Regions from separate parts of the Homo sapiens genome. Here all the other regions are linked to region 3. Evidence: fine-mapped expression QTL. A gene starts in region 3. Each other region holds a variant in brackets. All regions are shown on one strand. Distances are from middle to middle. Region 1 has its middle 28 kb from the start of PAQR8. Region 2 overlaps PAQR8 (progestin and adipoQ receptor family member 8). Region 3 holds the start of PAQR8 (progestin and adipoQ receptor family member 8).

Evidence for each region. PIP is the estimated chance that this variant, and not a neighbour inherited with it, causes the effect.
Region 1: its variant is fine-mapped to the expression of PAQR8 in NK cells (Gilchrist 2021, PIP 0.95).
Region 2: its variant is fine-mapped to the expression of PAQR8 in whole blood (TOPMed, PIP above 0.99).

Annotation. Positions count from the first base shown.
Region 1 is chr6:52,332,519-52,335,278 of GRCh38, forward strand. No RefSeq gene overlaps it. Among named protein-coding and RNA genes, the nearest start is that of PAQR8, 28 kb to the right of the region's middle. The variant T/C (reference allele first, on the strand shown) is at 1,486.
Region 2 is chr6:52,389,731-52,392,490 of GRCh38, forward strand. The region is part of intron 1 of PAQR8 (progestin and adipoQ receptor family member 8); the gene reads left to right. Among named protein-coding and RNA genes, the nearest start is that of PAQR8, 29 kb to the left of the region's middle. RefSeq lists enhancers at 1-1,684, 326-535. The variant T/C (reference allele first, on the strand shown) is at 1,484.
Region 3 is chr6:52,360,632-52,363,391 of GRCh38, forward strand. It overlaps PAQR8 (progestin and adipoQ receptor family member 8), which reads left to right and starts at 1,520. Exons shown (of 2, transcript NM_133367.5): 1 at 1,520-1,618. RefSeq lists silencers at 924-1,109, 1,283-1,772.

The sequences.
Region 1 (2,760 bases), 28 kb before region 3:
TGGCGTGATCTCGGTTCATTGCAACCTCCACCTCCCGGGTTCAAGCAATTCTCTGCCTCAGCCTCCTGAGTAGTTGGGATTACAGGCACACACCACCACGCCCGGCTAATTTTTGTATGTTTAGTAGAGATGGTGTTTCACCATGTTGGCCAGGCTGGTCTTGATCTCCTGACCTTGTGATCGATCCGCCTTAGCCTCCCAAAGTGCTGGGATTACAGGAGTGAGCCACCACGCCCCACGTGGACTCAATTTATGAAGTAAGAGTCAGGTGCTGACTACATGATGTGAGAGGTACAGGAAGGTTTTTACATTTCCTATTACTGTGCCTAGAAGCCTACATGGTGGCCCAATCAGGAGGTAGGAATTTTTCTTCTGTCGTCATCTATTAAAGGGGCTCTAGCCCCAACTCTGCCACTGGGAGTTCTGTGAAATAGTTCTCTGAAATTCCATTTTAAAAGAGAAAAAGTTCTTTAGAAAATGGGCATATGGCTAGGTGCAGCTGCTCACACCTGCAATTCCGGCACGTTGGGAGGCCAAGGTGGGAGAATTGCTTGAGCCCAGGAGTTTAAGACCAGCCTGGGCAACATAGCAAGACGCTATCTCTAAAAAAAAATACAAAAATTAGCCGGGTATGGTGATGTATACCTGTAGTCCCCACTACTCAGAAGGCTGAGGTGGGAGGATTGCTTGAGCTAAAGAGGTCGAGGCTGCAGTGAGCTAGGATTGAGCCACTGCACTCCAGCCTGGGCAATGGAGTGACACCCCGTCTCAAGAAAGAAAGAAAGAAAGAGAGAAAGAGAGAAAGAGAGAAAGAGAGAAAGAGAGAAAGAGAGAAAGAGAGAGAGAGAGAGAGAGAGAGAGAGAGAAGGAAGGAAGGAAGGAAGGAAGGAAGGAAGGAAGGAAGGAAGGAAGGAGAGAGAGAGAGAGAGAGAAAGAAGGAAGGAAGGAAGGAAGGAAGGAAGGAGAAAGAAAGAAAGAAAAAGAAAGAAAGAAAGAAAGAAAGAAAGAAAGAAAGAAAGAAAGAAAGAAAGAAAGAAAAGACAAAGAAAACAGGCATACTAATACCTGTCCTGCCTTCTGCACAGGCAGAATGGTGAAAGAGATAAGAGCACAGGATTTGGACTTGGTCAGACCCAGGCTTTAATCCTGATTTTGCCGCTAGTTAGCTGTGTGACCTTGGGCAAGTTATGTATACCTAGCTTTCTCCTCTGGAAATTAGGGATAAGAGTATCAGCTTCACAGTGATTATGACGATTAGTTGAGGTATGTAAGGCATTCAGCACAGTGACTGGCAGGTAGCAAGCTCTCAGAAGATGACAGTTAATTTCATAAGTGGTCCAAAATACCTTTTGGGAGATAATGCTCACGAGTGTTTTATTCACAGGGTTGCTGGCCAAATGAGAAAATGCACAGGAAAGCAAAATGTAACAGGCCTATCAGGATGAAAACACTGTGAGAAAGGTCACACATTAAACCACAAATGTT[T/C]TGGGTTCCTTGACAACTAGATTGTGCTACAGAGTTGGTAGGGTAGGGAGGAAGAGGAGAAGCTGAACTTCAACTGCTGCAGTTTTTCCTGGGGCTGGCCCTTGTTAGAATAATAGACACTCTACCATAGAGAGGCAGTTGATTCACCTATACCTGTTGGATAAAAAAGAAAACCATGTGGCTGGTGGAGCTGAGAAAGTGGAAAGAATAAAGGGAGCAGAAGATATATTGCTTGAAATCAGGCAAAAGTTCCATATATCAAAAGCCTCATTCTGGCTGACTTCATCACCAAACTCCCCTCCCAGAGGCCTCTGCCTGGGCTTTTGCAGAAAACATGTACAAACTCTATGCAAAGTAAGAATCCAAAATAGCTTATTTAGAAATAAACCACCTGCTTGTACAAACAGGAAGATCTGAAATCCCTGGAGTTGGGCAAGTGAGTTCCTTGCTTCCCTGCCTAGCCCAGCCTCCTACTGGACCCCCACTACCACAAAGGGATGGAATTACACTCCTTTCTCTCCAGCCTCTTTGCTTTGCTTTTTCCTTTTATTTTTAGTTGTCATGTAATAATTGTACAAATTGATGGGATATGGAGTGCTATTTCTTTTTCTTTTTTTTTTTGAGATGGAGTCTCGCTCTTTCACCCAGGCTGGAGTGCAGTGGTGCAATCTCAGCTCACTGCAACCTCCGCCTCCCGGGTTCAAGCGATTCTCCTGCCTCAGCCTCCTGAGTAGCTGTGACTACAGGCACGCATCACCATGCCCAGCTAATTTTTTGTATTTTTAGTAGAGACGGGGTTTCACAATGTTAGCCAGGTTGGTCTCAATCTCCTGACCTTGTGATCAGCCTGCCTCAGCCTCCCAAAGTGCTGGGATTACAGGCGTGAGCCACCGCACCCAGCTGGAGTGCTATTTTAATACATGCATACAATGAGTAATGATCAAATCAGGGTAATTAGCATATCATCACTTCAAACACTTACCATTTCTTTGTGTTGTGAACATTCAAAATCATCTTGTAGCTTTTTGAGAATATACAATAAATTATAATTAACCACATTCGCAAAGCACCAGAACTCTCACCCTCCTCCCCTCCCTCACCCACCCTTCCCAGCCTCTAATACTCACAATTCTACTCTCTACTTCCATGGGCTCAAAAAATTTATTTTATCTCCCACATGAGTGAGATCATGCGGTATTTGTCTTTCAGTGCTTGGTGTATTTCACTTAACATAAAGTCCTCCAGGCTCATCTATGCCATGAATGACAGGATTTT
Region 2 (2,760 bases), 29 kb after region 3:
CTTTATATGGTGCTCCAAACTCTAGCTCGATTTGTTATCTGATTTTCTGCTGTGGAAAGGGCATTTCCAAGATTGATTTCCTGCCAGTGGAAATGAGCAGCTCTCTTCACGTTCACCCGGGTTGGCCCGGGTCCCAGCTGGTTTGCAGATCAGTGATGAAGCTTCCTGCCGGTGAGAAGCTAGATCTAGTTGAGAGGTTGCCTGACTGAAGCCAAACCACACCTAACGAAGCCGATAGTTACACTCATGTAGAAAGTCCAGGGAGACACCTGTCCCTAGGCTTTAATTAGTGGGAGTTTCAGACAGCAAAGTTTACCTTTACTCAAACAAGAAGCCTCAGAAGAACATGATCTTCACACCTGAACTGTTGATTGCCTGGAGACTGCTCAGTGTGTTCTCCCAGTAAATTGTTCCCAGCTCCTCTGACTTCTCCCACTCGACAGATTAAACACAGATACTATTTATTCCATGTGGCAGATGCATTCTCTGTCTGTAATGATGCATTTTGAAACCAGTACTTTCTCAAGTGAGATTAGCTGAGATGTGGAAAGTATAGGAAGTGACAGAACAGACAGAAATTCTAGCTAGAGGGTTCTAGTTAGATAAAGAGAAAAAGGCACTCAGAGGAAATTTGCTCTGCTCATCTTTCCCAGGGCACAGCAACAAATTAAGGCTGTCTTTTCTTTCTCCTCTTAGGAATATTATAGGGCACCACAGAGGAAAAGATTCATAAGTGGAGAGCTCACTGAGCCCAGAAGGACACATCTTGCTGCCAGATCTGTGGCAAAAAGGTGTACCTTACTTTTTTTTTATAGGCACGGTTCAGCCGTACCACAAACCCACATGGTCAGGAAGTGACTCACGTATTAATGCCGTTTGAGTTTGTGTGCTGTGGGGAAGGTCTTTTGACAATATTGTGTATACTGGCTTTTCCAATCTAAGAGAACATCTTTGCTGCATTAACAGTAGATGTTACATATTTTTTTCCCTTTAAACCCCCCATGACCAATAGCTTACCCTATGGCAAGTATAGTTAGGTTACTCGTAATAATTAATTTGGTATGCTAACTAGTTGAGCTCACAGAAAAATGCAAGTATGGGTGTATTCCTTTATAATGCTGGGGTGTTTCTTGGGGAGGGTCTTAATATTTTACCAACTTAGGTTTTACCAATTTTTGCATATTTATGTCAAATATTCCTATTTGCAGAGTAGTACTAACTTTTGCTTTCCAATTACAAAAGTAGTAAATGTTTGTTGTTAAAAAGTACGATAATGATAGTATTTCCAGAAGAAAAGTAAAATTCCCCACAATCCCTTCATGGCAATAGCTATATTGTTTTGATTATATGCACTTCCATACTTCATCTGTACCATGTTTGTATGATTACAAAAATAGGGCTGGGCGGAACACATACTTTAAATTTGTTTTTTCCTTTACATGTCTTTGACTCATTTATTCATTCAAGAAATCTTTTTTGAGAA[T/C]GTACAATGTGCTAGTCCATCACTTTTCTAAGTGCAGTGGAGACTACAGTGAAAAACCAATGGAGCTCACATATCATGTGTATCTTTGTATAACAATAAATGTAAATATGCTAGTTATTTTAATAAGTGCATAGTATTCTATTTTATAGATTTATCTTAATTTACACAATCAAATACTCCATTTTTGGATGTCGAAATTCTGTTTGTTAGGTTTTGTTAAATATAGGGAGGAAATATGCACTGACCATTGGTGAATCTGAATCGATGTTCAAATGATCTCTGCTAATAACAGGATTGCACTGGTAGTGCCATTCTTTCAAATATGACTTTACAAATAGTGATATGCTCCTTGGAAGATGTAGCTATAAAGATCAGTATGAGCCCAGAGTTCTCTCACTTAACGACTATGGAGATCCTGAGGCATGTGAGACTGTTTCCAACTCCACCTCTGGCTCAAAGGCTGCTTAAAGCACAGTTCCAGTCCTTATAAATGGACACCAAGTTGTCATTTTGGCTGCTATTCCTTTGCAGCCATTTATAATTATGCAGTGATGTGTGAAGCTGGGCTTCTGTGAATTCTGGAAGCATTTCTTTTGCCTTTGATAGGAATTGCTGCTCATTTGTCCTCTATCCAACAACCAGCAGGTCACTTTCCTACCATCTGTGTGAGTCCCACACACAGTGACATGAAGTGATGTCACAGGATCTGTTTGTTGGTGATTCCAGCATGCTGCTTGATGTTCAGTACAAAGCAAAACATAGCCCAGATGAATTACAGAATTTTACAGTATTAGAGCTTATATAGATTACACCCCCATCTTAAGGACAAGGGCACCAAGGCATAGAGAGGTTGAATAATTTGCTTAAAAATCACTTAGAGCACTTTGGGAGGCCTAGGCGGGCAGATTGCCTGAGCTCAGGAGTTCGAGACCAGCCTGGGCAACACGGTGAAACCCCGTCTCTACTAAAATGCAAAAAAAACTAGCTGGGTGTGGCAGTGTGCGCCCTTAGTCCCAACTACTCGGGAGGCTGAGGCGGGAGAATTGCTTGAACCCAGGAGGCGGAGGTTACAATGAGGCAAGATCGCGCCACTGCATTCCAGCCTGGGTGACAGAGCGAGACTCCATCTCAAAAAAAAAAAAAAAAGTGTCACATAGTGATAGAGCTAGAACTAAACATTGGGACTTCTAATTTCTTGCCCAGTGTTCTTTCCAGGGAATCAGCTATTCCAAGTTTGTGGTAGATTCACATAGCATCCTTGTAATAGGTCAGGAAAC
Region 3 (2,760 bases):
TTTTTGACGATAAAGGAGAGCCCGGGTTTTTGAGGTTAAGGGAGAGTTCCCTGACATCTTTGGGGTGAAGAAGAGATGGAGGGAGCAAAGCTGCCAAAGACCTCCTGTGACATTTCCACTAGTATCCACCTATAAGTAAGTGCTGGACTATGATTCCCTGGGGAGATCAGTGGCTCTAAAGACAGGCCCCTGGGCTCTTTCCTGGCTCTGACTCAGCTTCAAACCTGCCGTGCAACTGCTCAGAGTCTAAATGTCTTCATTTATGGAACTGAAATAATCCTGCTAAGATTACTTTCTTTGCTTCGTGATGTTTGCCTGAGAATAAGTAGCTGGGACTACAGGCGTGTGCCACCACGCCCATCTAATTTTTGTATTTTTTGCAGAGACAGGGTCTCACCTTGTTACCCAGGCTGGTCTCGAACTCCTGGGCTTAAGCAATCTGCCCACTTTGGCTTCCCAAAGTTCTGGGATTACAGGTGTGAACCATCACACTCGGCTAAAATGTTTTGAAAAATGGAAACATTGTACAAATGTGAGATGTTGTGCAACATGTCACTGAAACACGGTGGTATAAGAGAAGTTTTGGGAACCAGCAGACCAGAATTAGGCCTGAGAAAATCTTACAGTAAGCAGACCAGAATTAGGCCGTCTGAGAAAATCTTACAGTAAGCAGACCAGAATTAGGCCTGTCTGACAAAATCTTACAGTAAGCAGGCCATCTTCCCAGGCCTTCTCTTTTCTCCAGATAATGAAGAAGGCTTTTTAAAAGCAAAGCCAACTTGATTTGTTAATTGATCATCCAACTTCTTAACTGTCTTTTTCTCATGGTAAAATACCGAGAACATTGTGGGTGAGGAGCAAGTCGGGAGGTGGAACCCACCCCCGCACCCTGCCTCCAATAGATTGTATGTGTGGGTCGCTATTGCTGGGACCCACGAAGGCTGTGGATTGAGGACACAGGGTAGAAGTGGGATCTTCTGCAGGTCAGTGTCAGATGTGTCTGTGTGATGTAGTCATGGGAGAGGCGCGAGTCTTGGGCGGGTGTATCTTAGGGGTGTGGAAGTGTCTGCAAGGGCCTCCGTGGTATGTCATCACATTATTTATATCATGGGCATGACCCTGAACGTTCACCCGAGAGTGGTGAGAGAAAGGCCAGGATTTAAATCAGTCTTGACAGCGCAGATGAAGTTTGTTATTGTTTTCCGCCCTTCCCGAGGGACTTCGGAAATGGCCCCCTGAGAGGTGAATTCTTGGAAAGAATATGAGGGCGGTTAAGGCGTCTCTGTCTCAAACTCTCCGGATTTTTTGCAGCTACCAGGGACTGCGAGGGTCTGCGTCCTGGGTGGAAGGAAGCGGCGTCAGTCAACTTCCTCGCAGCGGCGGCAGCGGCGCGGGCTGCAGCGGAGCGCGCGGGTCTGCGCATCCCGCCCCCGGGTCGGGAAGGGGCGGAGCTGGGCGTCACCCGCCCCCGGCGGTCTCCTCCTCCCGGCCGCTCCCCCGAGCCGAGCCCGCCGCGGTCACAGCCACCCGCGGGAAGCTCGTGGCCGGGACCCCGAGGCGGGAGCGCGGGCTGGGCCGGGCTGGGCTACGCGCACGGGCTCGGCCGCCGCCCCTGCCGGTGAGTCCCGCCGCGGGAGGCGCGGAACGGGTCGAGTTGGGTATTGGGACCGCGAGGTCGGGGAGCCCCGGGGCCCGAGCTCGGGAGGCGGGGACGTCAGGATCGCGGCGTTGGGGAGTCCTCGCACCCCGAGCTCAGAGGGGAGGTCCAGAGTCGCAGCGTTGGGAACCTGAGGCCAGGGGCCGGAGTTTAGGGCCCCGATGTTGAGTCTCCGAATCCAAGCCCGGAAGGGGGGACGACGGGTTAGGATGCTGGGGAGCCCTGGAGCTCTGAACGGCTGTAGTGGGGTGGCCAGGACTGCGATGCTGGGGAGTCATGGAGCCTGAGCCTGGAGAGCTGGCGGGGGTGTGGGGACCGCGATGTTGGGAAGGCTGAGCCCGGAGGGCGGGAGATTCAGGACCAAGACGTGGGGGAGTCCGACAGGGCAGAACGAGGGGCGTCCTGTCCGCATTTGTGGGGCGCCCTCCGCAGGGCGGAGGGGAACGGAACCTGGGAGGGGAGTGCGGAGGAGAGGAAGCCCGGGGCGGTAGGGAGAGCCCGAGGAAGGGCAGCCCGAGGTAGGGGAACCCCGGAAAGAGTAGGGTGGGTCTAGGCATGTGCTTTCGCCGGGGAAAGATGGAGGGGGCTTCTCTGAGAGGGTGGGCGCGAGGAGCGGAGTTGTGATGGGAACCGCCGGCAGCTGGCTAATGGGCGGATGCTGGGGCTTGGCTGGATGGGAACGCCGCGGTGGGGTGTCGGAGGTGGCTGGTGGGGCTGGAACGCTGGGAACGTCTGTCTAGGCTATGAGAACGCAGCGCCCTCGGTGGAACAGGGTCGTAGATAACTCGAGAGGGAATCTAGTCTAGGGAGCAAGACCGGGCATCCCCAGACGGAGGCGGGTGGGGACCTCGCACTCAGCGCGCTTGGGGAATATTCGGAGCCTGGGTTTGGGGGCTGCTGCACCTTGCCGACCCGGTGCGGGGACCTGGAGGTAGCCGGGCACAGCAGCTTCCTGTGCAGCTGTGGGTGCTCCAGGCACTGGCAGACTAGTGGGAAGTCCAGGAGCCTTGGCAGGCTCATTGTCTTGACCTAAGTTGCATTCCATATTTCTTAGCTGGGTTAGAAATGATTTTGTCCAGGAACCCAATGAGAAGAGCCTGGGC